3 separate regions of the Homo sapiens genome follow, and all the other regions are linked to region 1. The links come from fine-mapping of genetic effects on gene expression. A gene starts in region 1. Each other region holds a variant in brackets. All regions are shown on one strand. Distances are from middle to middle. Region 1 holds the start of SRP54 (signal recognition particle 54). Region 2 overlaps PRORP (protein only RNase P catalytic subunit). Region 3 overlaps SRP54 (signal recognition particle 54).

The links. PIP is the estimated chance that this variant, and not a neighbour inherited with it, causes the effect. A credible set is the group of variants that fine-mapping cannot tell apart.
Region 2: its variant is the best candidate, but not a certain one, in a credible set for the expression of SRP54 in CD4 T cells (Kasela 2017, PIP 0.61).
Region 3: its variant is the best candidate, but not a certain one, in a credible set for the expression of SRP54 in testis (GTEx, PIP 0.61).

The regions. Positions count from the first base shown.
Region 1 is chr14:34,980,658-34,986,294 of GRCh38, reverse strand. It overlaps SRP54 (signal recognition particle 54), which reads right to left and starts at 3,303. Exons shown (of 16, transcript NM_003136.4): 1 at 3,080-3,303. It overlaps SRP54-AS1 (SRP54 antisense RNA 1), which reads left to right and starts at 3,729. Exons shown (of 5, transcript NR_151701.1): 1 at 3,729-3,871. RefSeq lists enhancers at 2,833-3,092, 3,123-3,622, 3,803-3,892, 3,283-3,984, 4,103-4,152 and a silencer at 5,038-5,332.
Region 2 is chr14:35,173,492-35,179,128 of GRCh38, reverse strand. The region is part of intron 4 of PRORP (protein only RNase P catalytic subunit); the gene reads right to left. The region is part of intron 4 of PRORP-PSMA6 (PRORP-PSMA6 readthrough); the gene reads right to left. Among named protein-coding and RNA genes, the nearest start is that of PRORP, 54 kb to the right of the region's middle. The variant T/C (reference allele first, on the strand shown) is at 3,067.
Region 3 is chr14:35,024,388-35,030,024 of GRCh38, reverse strand. It overlaps SRP54 (signal recognition particle 54), which reads right to left. Exons shown (of 16, transcript NM_003136.4): 15 at 1,842-1,937; 16 at 458-964. The coding sequence ends at 873. Among named protein-coding and RNA genes, the nearest start is that of FAM177A1, 19 kb to the left of the region's middle. The variant T/G (reference allele first, on the strand shown) is at 2,514.

The DNA of each region.
Region 1 (5,637 bases):
CTTAACTTAGCACCAAAGATTATATTCAATTATATCAAGAAGTATCAAGCAACTTTCTCTTCATTAAAGTAATTGTTTTTCAAATTTTAAAACTCATTTTATGTAAAATAATATCACAGCACCAATTCGTACTTTTGCAGCAAAAAAGGTATACCAAAAAAAAAGTCAATTAGCAACAAGAGGTAATAACTCAGGAACACTGGGAATCATTTCTTTACGATACTTTCTGGCTATGAGGTCAACCATAAAAAGAATCTTTACATAAAATGCTACCAAGAAGAAAATTAAAACGAAAATCAAAAGAATTCCTTGGAAAGTTGGCCTTAACATTGAAAAGAAAAAGGAAAAGTGAAAAATAAAAAAGGAAAAGGAGGGATAAGAGGCATATGCTCAAGCAATGCGTTATTTCAATGACATTTAGATAATGCCTATCAGTAAAAATTAAATGCTCAATCAGACTCTCCAGAGATAGTAAGGTAAAAAAGTTTTAGGGGGAGTAGCTTCATCTAAATTCTTAATCTGGAGTGCAAAACAAGACATTTATGTTTTGAAAACTTTCACTAGCTATATTGATGTGCAGCAAGGGTTCATAATCACTATATTAAGTATTTAATAACATGTCCCAAAGAAAACAACAGAATGAGAAATCTGTTCTATACCTTAGAAACATCTTTAGATACAGTGTAACAAATACATTGGAGGGAAAAAACTGAAGAGCCAGGACACTACATGCACTACCCATACTCCATAAGGCTAGTTGAGACAAGATGTGGCCTTGAACTAGAGAAAAAGAAACTAGGGTTAAGGGCTAATTCATGAAGCAGAATCTAATGACCAAATGGTTATGGCAAGTGAAGGAAAAAAGAGGCAAAAATGATTCCAATATCTCTAGTTTTTATAACCAGATGGCTAGTGATGCCATTAACCAATGAATGGAAGGCAAAAAGGGAAGGTGGTTTGAAAGTCAGAGGAGTTAATAGAGAAGAGGTCAAAGGGACTTAATGTATTATTTTTAATGTTTCACTTTTTATGAAGGATGTGTACATAGATGTTCATTTCATTATCCCTCCAACTAGCTGGGACTACAGGCGGCGCCACTAAGCCTGGCTAATTTTTGTCTCTTTTGTTGAGACAGGGAGTTTCGCCATGTTACCCAAGCTGGTCTCGAACTCTTGAGCTAAAGCAATCTGCCAGCCTCAGCCTCCCAAAGTATTGGGATTACAGGCGTGAGCCATTGCTCACAGCCCTTATAATCCTTTTAAAAATTTAACCTACTTGTATCACAAAATTCAACCAGAGGTCAAAACTCAAAAACGCACTGACAATCACTGCTTTTATACACTTTCGTATGCATGACATATGTCATAGTGAAAAAAAAAAAAAAAAGGAAGGTGAAGACAGTGCATTTGGTTTTGGACCTAATGAGTTTGCAAGTTTTAGGGGAAAGTACAGAACTATCAACTCATGAGATGGAGGCTAAAGAATAAGGTTTAGGCAGGGCATGGTGGCTCACACCTGTAATCCCAGCACTTTGGGAGGCCGAAGCAGGCGGATCACTTCAGGTCAGGAGTTCAAGACCAACCTGGCCAACATGGTGGAACCCCATCTCTACTAAAAACACAAAAATTAGCTGGGCGTGGTGGCAGGCACCTGTAATCCCAGCTACTCGGAAGGCTGAGGCAGGAGAATTGCTTGAACCTGGGAGGCGGAGGTTGCAGTGAGCCGAGATGGTGCCTCGGTACTCCAGTCTGGGCGACAGAGCAAATAAGGTTTGGAAAAGAACAAGGTTTGGAAATGAAAAGAATAAGGTTTGGACATGGTTGGCATATAGGGACAATGCCATGGAAGCAAGCGAGAAGCCTCGAGGAGAGCCTGTGGAAGACCATTTGGGTTATAGCAATGACTGAGGGCCAACTAAAAGGACGGCGTTAACCAAGACTGAAAATAACCAAAGAGATAGGAGCTTTTACTAATTCCCTTTCCCTTTCTCCATGGCACATAGGAGAAAATCAATTTTTAAAAAGCTACATTTATGGTTATCTTACTGTAATCCTGTGGCAGGTCCAGAATTTCCAAATAGATGGGGACAGAGGAGTAATCTGGAAGGAAGACTTGAAGATGCTTTTGCATAGTACTCTATATTAAGGTAGAAAATACCAGTTGGCCATATCAAAAAACTGAGAAAAAGCGATTTGAGGGAAATATTTCCCTCCCCTTTGGCACCACGATTGCTGTATTCTAGGCACTAAACCAAACCAAACCTCTTACCTAATCTCCTTTCTTCCTCAAAACAAGCCTATTAAGTAGATGAGGAAATTGAGGCTAGATTGGAATAGAAACTGGCTCAGGGTCACAAAGCACCTAAGGAGCACTTTAGCTCTCCCACAGCTTTCTACAGCTCTTTATATGCAACTAGTGTTTCTCATTACCCATCTTGATATAATGTGTATTTATGTGCGTTAGCTTCTCAATGGCAGAGTTAGTGTTATTCATTTCTGTATCCTTGTAGCCAAGAACAAGTATATATTTTGTTAAATTAAGCATGTGAAAGAATCAGGTGAGGATAGCATGAAGAAAGGCAGCAGGGGAAAGTTTCAAGAAATGGATGGTCAGCAGCGTCAAATGGTACAGAGAGAGCTATCAGTCTATCTTAAATCATCATTGGCATTCAACTGATATTCCATATTCGTTTATTGAACGTCTACTACACGCAGGACATTGTGTTAAGCACTACAAACACATAGGAAAAATAAAAGTCTCGTACAAGTAAAAGGATTTTCGGGGAAGTAGCTTCATCTAAATTCTTGCTCAGGAAAGCAAAACGAAGACTCAGGCCTGCAACTGCCTACATCTTATTTGGCTCAGGTAAATCGGAAGACAACTCAAAAGGGGCACAGCGCATCTTTAATAAAACTTCTCATGGAAGACGAGATAAAGAGCCACAGAAACTCAGTCTCGGTAACGATGGCCGGTGGCCACGGAGGCCGACTTCCCCCGGAGTCTCTCGCCTCCTGAGCAGCGCTGGGGCTGCCCCTCGCTCCCCCTCCGTAGTCTGGGGCGGGAAAAAGCAGACACTTACCGCAAAAGACACCGCTAAAGCCGTGGCCCTGAGGGGCCGGGAATTCCTTAGCGAGGCCCCACGCCGTCGGAAGAAACCCAAGAAAGCTGGGAGCAGACAGACAGGTATGACCCCACAACCCAACTTCCCGAACTAGATAAAGTAGGGTCCCAACGCCCAGCACCACGTCGTCAACTCCCACCAGCTGGAAGACCAACGGAGTGCCAGCGAACCTTCCGCCCAATGAGGAAACGTCACCACTCCGCGTAGTCCAGCCTTTCTATAGGAGAATCTACTTCCGCTTCCGGGGCACACCGCCGCGTTCCTTCTACGCGGCTCCTGAAACAGTTTAGATGTTTACTTGCTTACACTGGTTTTTGGTTTCAGTTTCCTACCGCTGAATAACTGCAGGAGTAAAGTTAGTGGTAAAATAGGAGGCTGTCTAGGGACGTGATTTCGGGGAAGAAGTCAGGCCTCGACGAGCCACCTTAAGAAAAGTGACTAGGCGGAGCACTCCCAGCTAAGAGCGGAAAGATGAGAGATAGAGGTGTGACTGAAGGCAGGGATCCCCAGGCGCACGTGAGACCTCCGTAGAGGGGCGGGGCTTAGGGCTTTGCAGACCGGAGGCTTGTTCCGCGGAGGGTGGGGCGGTCTCTGCTTGCGCATGCGCAATGCCAGCCAGTGCCTGCGCGGCTTGCTCCAGCAAGGTAAAATTTCCCACTGCGAGGCAGGCAGTGATGCTGCGGCCGCTTCGCACTGTGGCTCCTGCCGACCGCCAGGCGCTGTTACAGTGGATGCGAACTAACCGTAAGTGTAAGTGACCAGAGCTAGAGGCAGGTGGTGGGGGCAAGGATATGCTGCAGGCGCTGACTTTGAGGACTTAAGCGGGGTGAAGCCAACAGCCTTCCTTGGGATCGTTGTGCTGGTCTCTGCTGTCTTGGGGGGTAGATTGACCAGGGCTTTGAGTGCTCTAACGGAAAAGAGAGTTAGTTGCTCGCCACACGTAGACACCAATTAACAAGAGCGAGCCCTAGTATACAAGAAGAGGGATTTTATTTCTGAAGCCAGCCCGCTTCGTCTTTGGAGCAAAAAAGCGGGCATTTTATAAGGTACAAGAGGAAATGAGCAAGAGGTCTCTGCTAGCTGGTGCCTTATCTACCGGGTAGTTGAGTTGGTGCATTTCTGAGCAGAAATAAGTTGTAAAAGTGGCCAAGTGGGCATGCTTTCTGCTTACCCTTCTGAGGCGACCGCCTGGCGGTGGGAGTTGCGTCTTGGATCTCGTAGATGAATTTGCTCTGTAGAGAATGGTCTGGTGAGGGGAGTTGAGAGGTTATTTTGCAGTTCAAAAAGGGCTAAGTGGAAAGTGTAGTGGGGAGGGGAAAAGAGGGGAAAAAATAAACTATCTCTTGGAAAATGGGGGTAATCGGATACAGTACCACTTGGAATTAATTGGGTGTGGGAAACCTGGTTCTGAGTGGTTTGTGAGTTTTCAGCAGACTTCGGACAAGCCTTTAGAGCTCCTTGTGCCTAACCCTTTTTCTGAAAGAAAATAGAGGGTTAGCCCTCCTCCCCATTACTCCCACAAACTTGTTAGAATTGGTACGTTGCCACCTGAAAAAGCATTTTGCAGGAGAGGTTTTAGGCTGTAGCGTTAGTAGGAAGTGTTAAACGAAAAACCTTAGCCAAGTTAAATTTAACATTTTGAGCAAAGAATGATTCACGAATCGGGCAGGCTCAGAGAGATTGCAGCGCAGCCAAGTGTTGAAGATTTATAGACAGAAAAAGGCTGCAGTGAGCTTTGATCCCGCTGCTTCACTCCAGCCTGAGCGACGCAAGACCCTGTCTCTTTAAACACACACGTTAAAACTGAGGAAATGTGGTAGCTAGATCTAGTTACTGAAAAATGGGATAGATGTATTCTGGCAAAGTAAAGCCTGATGAAAGCTCAAGAAAATAGGATATTCTTATGTTTGTTAACTATAGCAAACTATCCTATGCCTGTATGCGAGAGTGTGTGTGTGTGTGTGTGTGTGTGTGTGTGTGTGTGTGTGTATGTGTGTGTATTTATTTTTTGAGACAGAGTTTCACTCTTGTTGCCCAGGCGGGGCTGCAGTGGCGCCATCCAGCTCACTGCAACCTCCACCTCCCTGATTCGAGCGATTTTGAGTGGCTGGGATTACAGGCGTCCGCCACCACGCCCGGCTCATTTTTGTATTTGTAGTAGAGACGGAGTTTCACCATGTTTCCCAGGCTGGTCCCAAACTGCTGACCTCAGGTGATCTTCCTGCCTGGGCCTCCCAGAGTGCTGGGATTGCAGGCGTGAGCCACCACGCCTGGCCACTATGCCTGTATTTTGCTGAATGGTGATTTCCATGGTTATTTTTATCCAAGCTCATGACTTGAAATGTCATTGTTAGCTGATGACTTACAATTTTAGATTTTTAACCTCGACCTCTTAAAATTCTTTGTGATGTTAGAGTCAGTAGGTTTAGATATTATAATTAACATTATTACACATTTTAGGAGTCATTTTAGATAAGATGTCAAACTGAAGATAACAGGAACATCTGCTAGTGAGA
Region 2 (5,637 bases), 190 kb before region 1:
AGCCCATCAGACTAACAGCGGATCTCTAGGCAGAAACTCTACAAGCCAGAAGAGAGTGGGGGCCAATATTCAACATTCTTAAAGAAAAGAATTCTCAACCCAGAATTTCCTATCCAGCCAAACTAAGCTTCATAAGTGGAGGAGAAATAAAATGCTTTACAGACAAGCAAATCCTGAGAGATTTTGTCACCACCAGGCCTGACCTAAAAGAGCTTCTGAAGGAAGCACTAAACGTGGAAAGATACAACCGGTACCAGCCACTGCAAAAACATGCCAAAACGTAAAGACCATCGATGCTAGGAAGAAACTGCATCAACTAATGAGCAAAATAACCAGCTAACATCACAATGACATGATCAAATTCACACATAATATTAACCTTAAATGTAAATGGGCTAAATGCTCCAATTAAAAGACACAGTCTGGCAAACTGGATAAAGAGTCAAGATCCATCAGTGTTGCTGTATTCAGGAGACCCATCTCACATGCAGAGACACACATAGGCTCAAAATAAAAGGATGGAGGAAGATCTACCAAGCAAATGGAAAACAAAAAAAGGCAGAGGTTGCAATCCTAGTCTCTGATAAAACAGACATTAAACCAACAAAGATCAAAAGAGACAAAGAAGGCCATTACATAATGGTAAAGGGATCAATTCAACAAGAAGAGCTAACTATCCTAAATATATATGCACCCAATACAGGAGCACCCAGATTCATAAAGCAAGTCCTCAGAGACTTACAAAGAGACTTAGACACCCACACAATAATAATGGGAGACTTTAACACTCCACTGTCAACATTACACAGATCAACGAGACAGAAGTTAACAAGGATATCCAGGAATTGAACTCAGCTCGGCATCAAGCGGACCTAATAGACATCTACAGAACTCTCCACCCCAAATCAACAGAATTTACATTCTTCTCAGCACCACATCGCATTTATTCCAAAATTGACCACATAGTTGGAAGTAAAGCACTCCTCAGCAAATGTAAAAGAACAGAAATTATAACAAACTGTCTCTCAGACCACAGTGCAATCAAACTAGAACTCAGGATTAAGAAACTCACTCAACCGCTCAACTACATGGAAATTGAACAACCTGCTCCTGAATGAATACTGGGTACATAATGAAATGAAGGCAGAAATAAAGATGTTCTTTGAAACCAATGAGAACAAAGACAAAACATACCAGAATCTCTGGGACACATTTAAAGCAGTGTGTGGAGGGAAATTTATAGCACTAAATGCCCACAAGAGAAAGCAGGAAAGATCTAAAATCGACACCCTAACATCACAATTAAAAGAACTAGAGAAGCAAGAGCAAACACATTCAAAAGCTAGCAGAAGGCAAGAAATAACTAAGATCAGAGCAGAACTGAAAGAGACAGAGACACAAAAAACCCTTCAAAAAAATCAATGAATCTAGGAGCTGGTTTTTTGAAAAGATCAACAAAATTGATAGACTGCTAGAAAGACTAATAAAGAAGAAAAGAGAGAAGACTCAAATAGACACAATAAAAAATGATAAAGGGGATATCACCACCGATCCCACAGAAATACAAACTACCATCAGAGAATACTATAAACACCTCTACGCAAATAAACTAGAAAATCTAGAAGAAATGGATAAATTCCTGGACACATACACCCTCCCAAGACTAAACCAGGAAGAAGTTGAATCTCTGAATAGACCAATAACAGGATCTGAAATTGAGGCAATAATTAATAGCCTACAAACCAAAAAAAGTCCAGGACCAGACGGATTCACAGCCAAATTCTACCAGAGGTACAAGGAGGAGCTGGTACCATTCCTTCTGAAACTATTCCAATCAATAGAAAAAGAGGGAATCCTCCCTAACTCATTTTATGAGGCCAACATCATCCTGATACCAAAGTCTGGCAGAGACACAACAAAAAAAGAGAAATTTTAGACCAATATCCCAGATGAACATCGATGGAAAAATCCTCAATAAAATACTGGCAAACTGAATCCAGCAGCACATCAAAAAGCTTATCCACCACGATCAAGTGGGCTTCATCCCTGGGATGCAAGGCTGGTTCAACATACGCAAATCAATAAATGTAATCCAGCATATAAACAGAACCAAAGACAAAAACCACACTATTATCTCAATAGATGCAGAAAAGGCCTTTGACAAAATTCAACAGCCCTTCACGCTAAAAACTCTCAATAAATTAGGTATTGATGGGACGTATCTCAAAATAATAAGAGCTATTTATGACAAACCCACAGCCAATGTCATACTGAATGGGCAAAAACTGGAAGCATTCCCTTTGAAAACCGGCACAAGACAGGGATGCCCTCTCTCACCACTTCTATTCAACATAGTGTTGGAAGTTCTGGCCAGGACAATCAGGCAGGAGAAAGAAATAAAGGGTATTCAATTAGGAAAAGAAGAAGTCAAATTGTCCCTGTTTGCAGATGACATGATCGTATATTTAGAAAACCCCATTGTCTCAGCCCAAAATCTCCTTAAGCTGATAAGCAGCTTCAGCAAAGTCTCAGGATACAAAATCAATGTACAAAAATCACAAGCATTCTTACACACCAATAACAGACAAACAGAGAGCCAAATCATGAGTGAACTCCCATTCAAAATTGCTACTAAGAGAATAAAATACCTAGGAATCCAACTTACAAGGGATGTGAAGGACCTCTTCCAGGAGAACTACAAACCACTGCTCAACGAAATAAAAAAGGACACAAACAAATGGAAGAACATTCCATGCTCATGGATAGGAAGAATCAGTATTGTGAAAATGGCCATACTGCCCAAGGTAATTTATAGATTCAATGCCATCCCCATCAAGCTACCAATGACTTTCTTCACAGAATTGGAAAAAACTACTTTAAAGTTCATATGGAACCAAAAAAGAGCCTGCATTGCCAAGACAATCCTAAGCCAAAAGAACAAAGCTGGAGGCATCAAGCTACATGACTGCAAACTATACTACAAGGTTATAGTAACCAAAACAGCATGGTACTGGTACCAAAACAGAGATATAGACCAATGGAACAGAACAGAGCCCTCAGAAATAA[T/C]GCCGCTTATCTACAACTATCTGATCTTTGACAAACCTGACAAAAACAAGCAATGGGGAAAGGATTCCCTATTTAATAAATGGTGCTGGGAAAACTGGCTAGCCATATGTAGAAAGCTGAAACTGGATCCCTTCCTTACACCTTATACAAAAATTAATTCAAGTTGGATTAAAGACTTAAATGTTAGACCTAAAACCATAAAAACTCTAGAAGAAAACCTAGGCAATACCATTCAGGACATAGGCATGGGCAAGGACTTCATGTCTAAAACACTAAAAGCAATGGCAACAAAAGCCAAAATTGACAAATGGGATCTAATTAAACTCAAGAGCTTCTGCACAGCAAAAGAACCTACCATCAGAGTGAACAGGCAACCTACAGAATGGGAGAAAATTTTTGCTATCTACTCATCTGACAAAGGGCTAATATCCAGAATCTACAAAGAACTCTAACAAATTTACAAGAAAAAAAACAACCCCATCAAAAAGTGGGCAAAGGACATGAACAGACACTTCTCAAAAGAAGACATTTATTCAGCCAACAGACACATGAAAAAATGCTCATCATCACTGGCCATCAGAGAAATGCAAATCAAAACCACAATGAGATACCATCTCACACCAGTTAGAATGGCGATCATTAAAAAGTCAGGAAACAACAGGTGCTGGAGAGGATGTGGAGAAGTAAGAACACTTTTACACTGTTGGTGGGACTGTAAACTAGTTCAACCATTGTGGAAGACAGTGTGGCGATTCCTCAGGGATCTAGAACTAGAAATACCATTTGACCCAGCCATCCCATTACTGGTTATATACCCAAAGGATTATAAATCATGCTGCTATAAAGACACATGCACATGTATGTTTATTGCGGCACTGTTCACAATAGCAAAGACTTGGAACCAACCCAAATGTCCATCAATGATAGACTGGGTTAAGAAAATGTGGCACATATACACCATGGAATCCTATGCAGCCATAAAAAAGGATGAGTTCATGTCCTTTGTAAGGACATGGATGAAGCTGGAAACCATCATTCTGAGCAAACTATTGCAAGGACAGAAAACCAAACACCGCGTGTTCTTATTCATAAGTGCGAATTGAACAATGAGAACACTTGGACATAGGAAGGGGAACATCACACATCAGGGCTTGTCGTGGGGTGGGGGGAGGGGGGAGGGATAGCACTAGGAGATATACGTAACGTAAATGACGAGTTAACGGGTGCAGCACACCAACATGGCACATGTATACAAACCTGCACATTGTGCACATGTACCCTAGAACTTAAAGTATAATAAAAAAAAAAAAAAGAAAAAAAAAAGAAGAATGAACTGTCAAAATCTCTAAGTCCTGTTCTGTAGGCCAAGGAGGAGTGAACCTTAGGTATGCCACTCTACCAGTACAACCGTGCTGAAAGAACAAGGCTGTAAAACGTATAGGTCCTCTTTTGTCATTAAGAGGCTTTTATTTACCTATGGCTGTTTTGGAGAGGTAAAGATTCAGCCAATCATTAATTCAACAAATATTTGCTGAGCACCTACTACATGCCTAGCAGTTTACCAAAGGGACAAACAAAACAAAACAGAACAAAAAAACCCCAACTTAATGGAGCTTAGTGGGAGGATGCAGAAAATAAACGAAGTCAATAAGTAAATAATATTAAATGTGAGAATGCTATGGAGAAAAAAATAGGGGAGGGAGTTCTACCTCTGGTAATGATGGAATAGTTTGTACTGGACTACTAGATAATAATATAAATTCTAGATAAATACCCAACTATTTCAAAGTACCAAAGAATGAGCAAAAGCAGGCAGAAACTGGAGGGGACATGACATTTGAAGGTTTGGTAGTTTTAAAATCTGTCTGAAAATTAGTTGACACTCCCCTCTCAAAAGGTGATGTCTAATACCCTATGCTTTGAATATGGGCTCTCCTTTGTGACTGCCTCAATGAGTGGGATGTGGCAGAAGTGACATTATGTGATTTCTGAGGCTAGGAAATAAAAGATAATACAGCTTTCATCTGGCTGTCACTCTCAGGATGCTTGCTCTTGGAAACCAGCCATCCTGAGAATGCCCAAGTAGACGTTATATGTAAGTGTTCCATCTGACAGTCCAACGGAGTCCCAGCCAACAGCCAGCTAGCATCAATCACCACACCGATGAGACTGAGGGGGATTTCAAGATGACCCCCAGCCCCTATTTGATTACAATAGGAGACCCAAGCAAGAAGCATCAATTGAGTCTCATCAACCCCTAGAACCACGAGAGAGAACAACAATAATAATAGTAATAAATGATTGCGTTTTTTTAAAGCCACTATATTTGGGAAAATAAAGGAAAGAAAAGAAGGGAATTATACCAGGTAAAATTTGTCTTGGTCAGAGGGCAATCTCCAGACAGTATGGCCAGCAGGAACAGCTGGAAATCAAGCAGAAAGCTGCAGAACTTACTGGTTTGAGGAAACAGAAGACAGAGTTTGGGGCAACCAGAGGCTGGAAAATGACAGGGAATCCTAGAAAGGATAAAACCACAAAATTTGCACATAAATCTCCTCAAATCCTTGGGTA
Region 3 (5,637 bases), 44 kb before region 1:
GCCTGGGCATGAGCCACCATGCTTGGCCTCTTCTTTTTTTTTTTTCTTTTGAGACAGAGTCTCACTCTGTCACCCAGGCTGGAGTGCAGAGGCGCGATCTCGGCTCACTGCAATCTCTGCCTCCCGGGTTCAAGAGATTCTCATGCATCAGCCTCCCGAGTAGCTGGAACTACAGGCATGCATCACTACGCCCAGCTAATTTTTGTAGTTTTAGTAGAGACGGGGTTTCCATGTTGGCCAGGCTGGTCTTGAACTCCTGACCTCAGGTGATCCTCCTTCTGTCACCCAGGCTGAAGAGATCCACACTTCAGCCTCACAAAGTGCTGGGATTAGAGGCGTGAGCCACCGTGCTCGGCCCCAGGCATAGTTTTAAATGACATTTATCTACTGGCTTTTCCATTGAGTTTTTAGTGTGATAAACTGATAATGTTTAACCATAAAGAAAGTTAACAACCCCTTAACTTATAACCACTTTGAAGTTTATTTTACAGCACTTTAATTGAAACATTATTTAACTACTGACCAGGACTGTTTACAAATGCAATGCTTGGCCTTCGAGATAATTAAAAACCTTTAAGTACTAAAATTTTACATCATGATTTAACTTAAGTGTTATGATGGTGAAAACAGAAGAAAATCTAAAGCAAACATATAATGATTTCCACAAAAACCATGTATTTCTCCCTTATATTAAAGGGAGGAAAGAAGGAAGGAAAAAGAAAAGGAGGGGAAAAGCGGGCGAGAAGAAAAGGAAAGAGTGCATGATAAGCAAGAAAAATACACTTTCCCCCCAATTCGCAAAAAGAAGGGAAACGCTGAGGTCTCAGCAAATTAGGTATTCAACTGAGTCAGTTTATATTAAGGCATTTTCTTTACATATTATTGAATCCCATCATGCCTTTCATGTTGCCAGCAGCACCCTGTTGAAACTGCCTCATCATTGACTGAAGTCCTGCCATACCACCTAGAGCAAAAGTAGGGAAGTAGAGTTAAAAACAGAGAATTATTAAGCAGAACTGGAAACATTTATTACTTTTGCCTAATAAGTACTTCTAAAAATACTGAATTCTGATTGCAATTTAGTCATCAGCCTTAAAGAACGTACCACCTAAAAATTTGTATTATCACCAGTTATCTTCATCAATAAAAGAGAATGAATAGCCTATCTTACGGAGTTATTGCGAGGAATAAATGAGGTGATACATAAAAAGATCTTAGGATACTACCGGTCACATAGTCAATAAATCTAAACAAAAAATTTTTTTCTTATAAATCCAAAAGGGTCTTACTCTAAGTTACATAAAAAATAATCAATAGGGGATTATTTCATAGGACTTACAAAAAGAAAATAATTCATTTATTGAACATCTACTATATGCCCAGAATTGTACTGAATGTCTTCATATATATTATCTCATTTAATTGTCACAATTTCTTGATGAGATATGATCTGTGATTTTACCGAAGGGGAAAGTGAGGTTCAGAAAGTTTAAGGAACTTTGTAAAGGTTATATAGTCAAAGTAGAACTCAGGTTAAAAATCCTCAGTCATATAAGTAAAAATATCCAGGTTCTAAAATAAGGGAAAAAGTCACCAGAACAAACAAAAGATGATTAAATAGCTTGCTCAAACATCACACAGATGGCAGCAGAGGAGTGAATAAGACCTCAGCTAATAAGCCCTATTACAATTGAATTCAACTTAGGATTCAGATGACCATTTCCCTGAAATCACACACCTTTTGAACATATTTTCATAATATTACAATAAAAGGCTTATCATTAAAACTCAACCCTTATAAATTAAACTGCATTAGCAACTGCCAACAACTTGGTATTTACCCATGTGATGAAGAACCCTAGGATCCATCATTTTGGCCATTTGTTGGTTCAATTTTGCCATCTGTGACTGGCTCACATTCTTAGACATGTCGCCACCTGAGGGGAAAAAAAAAAAGATTTTGAGTCAGCGTAGGAGGTAATATAATCAGTATAATCAGGGTATAATAGAAAGTTTGATGAACTGAGAAAATACTAAGAAAAAATTACATAATCCTATCACTCTAACATAATTCTTTCTATTTCTACATATTCCCTTCTAATCTTTTTCTCAATTACATACTATTTTTTGAAGACCATGTAAAATTCTATATAAAAGGACATATAAAAGGCTTTTTTAAGGCTACGATTTATGCTAATACTTTATTTATATCTGTGAATAAGCCACTATTAGCAAAATTGTACCCAGTGTTTTATTTTTTATTTATTTTGAGATGGAGTCTTGCTCTGTCACCCAGGCTAGAGTGCAGTGGCGTGATCTCGGCTCACTGCAACCTCCACCTCCCAGGTTCAAGTAATTCTCCTGCCTCAGCCTCCCAAGTAGCTGGGATTACAGGTGCCCGCCACCACACCCAGCTAATTTTTGTATTTTTAGTAGAGACAGGGTTTCACCATCTTGGCCAGGCTGGTCTCAAACACCTGACCTCGTGACCCACTCACCTCAGCCTCCCAGAG[T/G]GCTGGGATTACAGGTGTGAGACACCGTACCTGGTCAGCCAGCAGTTTTTAATAGTAAGCTATAACAACGGCTTAATAGTGATACAGGGGAATGCTGGACAAAAAGCTGAGTTTATAGACATGGGTTAATTAGCAAAGAGACTGGATGGCTGGTAGATGAATATGAAAGTATGAGTCTGTTGGGCTGGCTGTGGTGGCTCACAACTATAATCCTAGCACTCTGGGAGGCCGAGGCTGGCAGATCACTTGAGGTCAGGAGTTCGAGACCAGCCTAGCCAACGTGGTGAAACCCCGTCTCCACTAACAATACAAAATAAATTAGTCAGACATGGTGGCACACGCCTGTAGTCCCAGCTACTCAGGAGACTGAGGCAGAATTGCTTGAATCCGGGAGGCGGAGGTTGCAGTGAATCAAGATCGCACCACTGTACTCCAGCCTGGGCGACAGAGCAAGACTCTGTCTCAGAAGAAAAAAAAAAAAAAAAGAAAGTAGAAAGTAAAGTATGAGTCTGAGAGAACGTGAAGATGTGTATGTATCTAAGAAGTTTTTTTTGTTTTGTTTTGTTTTTGAGATGGAGTCTAGCTCTGTCACCCAGGCTGGAGTGCAATGGCACGAACTCAGCCCACTGCAACCCCCGCCTCCCGGGTTCACACCATTCTCCTGTCTCAGCCTCCCGAGTAGCTGGGATTACAGGCATGAGCCACCACACCCAGCTAATTTTTGTATTTTTAGTAGAGACAGGGTTTCACCATTTTGGCCAGGATGGTTTCGATCTCTTGACCTCATGATCTGCCCGCCTTGGCCTCCCAAAGTGCTGGGATTACAGGCGTAGGCCACAGCGCCTGGCCAGAAGTTTTCTTTAAGTAATGAAAACCTTCAGAGAATACAAAGACAAATAATGCAACTTCACTTGTCAAGGAATTTCTACACTATGTCAAAACACCATAGTAAAAAGGGCAGTCAATGAAAGAGATGCAGCCTGGGTGAGGTGGGTCACATTTGTAATCCCAGCACTTCAGGTGGCGAAGGTAGGCTGATTACTTGAGCCCAGGAGTTCAAGATCAGCCTGGGCAACATGGGGAAACCCTGTCTCTACAAAAAAAACAAAAAAAAGCATTAGCTCAGTGTGATAGCATGCGTCTGTAGTCTCAGCTACTTGGGGGCCTCAGATTGGAGGATCGCTTGAGCTTGGGAGGTCAAGGCTGCAGTGAGCCATGATCATGCCATTGCACTTCAGCCCCCAGCCTGGGTGACACAGCGAGACCCTGTCTCAAAACAAAACAAAACAAACAAACAAAAAACAACAAAAAATAAACAACAACAATAAATAAAAAAACAACAACAGAATAGATAAAAACACCCTTTAGACAACAGCTGTACTCATAAAAGAAAGCAAGAGATCATCACTACAACAATGAATAGAACTGCTTCAACAATTTTTTTTTTTTTTTTTTTGAGACAGGCTCTTGCTCTGTCGCCCAGGCTGGAATGCAGTGCTCTGATCATGGCTCACTGCAGCCTTGCCCTCCTGGGCTCATGGGATCCTCCTGCCTTGGCCTCTCAAAGTGCTGGGATTACAAGTATGAGCCACCACAACCATCCAAAATTATTTATTTGAAAGGGGCATTAACTATGGTACTTCTCAGAAGCATTTATAAAATATGGGACTCAAAGCTCCTCCTGATTCTCCAATCACAGCTGGTTAATGTGAATAAATCATGTGAATTATAAACTATGAATGAAAGAGAAGATTATGTTTTTATGATAAAATCTGTGAAAACCATTTATGATGAATAAATCTGAAGAAGATGGGAATTCCATGCTCATTAGTGATTTGTCCTAAGAGTTTGTTTATCAGCATTTAAAACTTCTAAAAAGTATTTCAAGTTTGGTGTGACATAGCTGTGTGTATACCCACTGCCAACTTCATCTTGGGTTATTCCTTTATTGAGGGATCAATGCATAGATAAGATCTGGATGGTGAATCTGTTCTATCAAGAACAGTCAGGACTACATGGGAAAGACATTACAGTGATGTAATGTGTTTATTAGTCACTATCTGAAATAGCATGTGATGGTAGGAATTATAACCAATTTTCAACATGTTTGTCTAATTTTTTTGTCACAAAAGAGAAAATAGGATATCGCAAGGAAAATAAGGAAAGCTTCAAAGACAAAAGGTAATTTAAAACATCTGGAAATACTCATTCTTTTAGAAGCTATTCAATGGTATTGTTCATATTCAGAGCTTGTCTAATTAATATTTTTGGAAACAATAAATTCATTTTAATGGGTTTCAAGGCAAATTTTCACAGACTCTGAATTAGTTGTTTACATTATAGAAAAAAATCAAAAAGAGGACTGGAACAGTTGGAAGTCTTTGGAAAACCTTATCTTTTTACGATACATAATACACAGCAAAATAAATTCAATTGAGATTAAAAAGTCAAACACAAAATAAAAACAAAAACAAGTAGAAGCCAGGTGTTGTGGCTCATGCCTGTAATCCCAGAGCATTTTAGGAAGCTAAGGCGGGCGAATCACTTGAGGTTGGGAGTTTGAGACCAGCCTGGCCAGTAAAGATGGTGAAACCCAGTCTCTACTAAAAATACAAAAATTAGTTGGGCATGGTGGCACGTGCTTGAAATCCCAGCTACTCGGGAGACTGAGGCAGGAGAATAGCTTGAACCCAGGAGGCGGAGGTTGCAGTGAGCTGAGATCATGCCAGTGCACTCCAGCCTGGGCGACAGAGCAAGACTCTGTCTCAAAAAAAGAAGAAAATGGTGACAACTGTGGTATCAACATGGAGAAGGTTAACTTGATTACCTCTGTAAAGAAAAAAAAAAAAGGAAAAAATAAACAAGGGGAAGCTGTTTATGAGCATAAAAGAAATAAAAAAAGATAGGCTGGCTACATTAAAAAGGGCAACTACTGTTCATTATAAAATATAAATAAAAATAAAAGGTAAATGAAAAACTGGGGGAAAATATTTGAAGACATAAACCAAAGATTTTAAGGAGCTATTACAAAGATATAAGGGGGAAAAATGGAAGAACTGGACAGGGAACATGAAGAGGTGATTCACAAAGTAAATTCAAACCAGTAAATGTACAAAGAAATGTT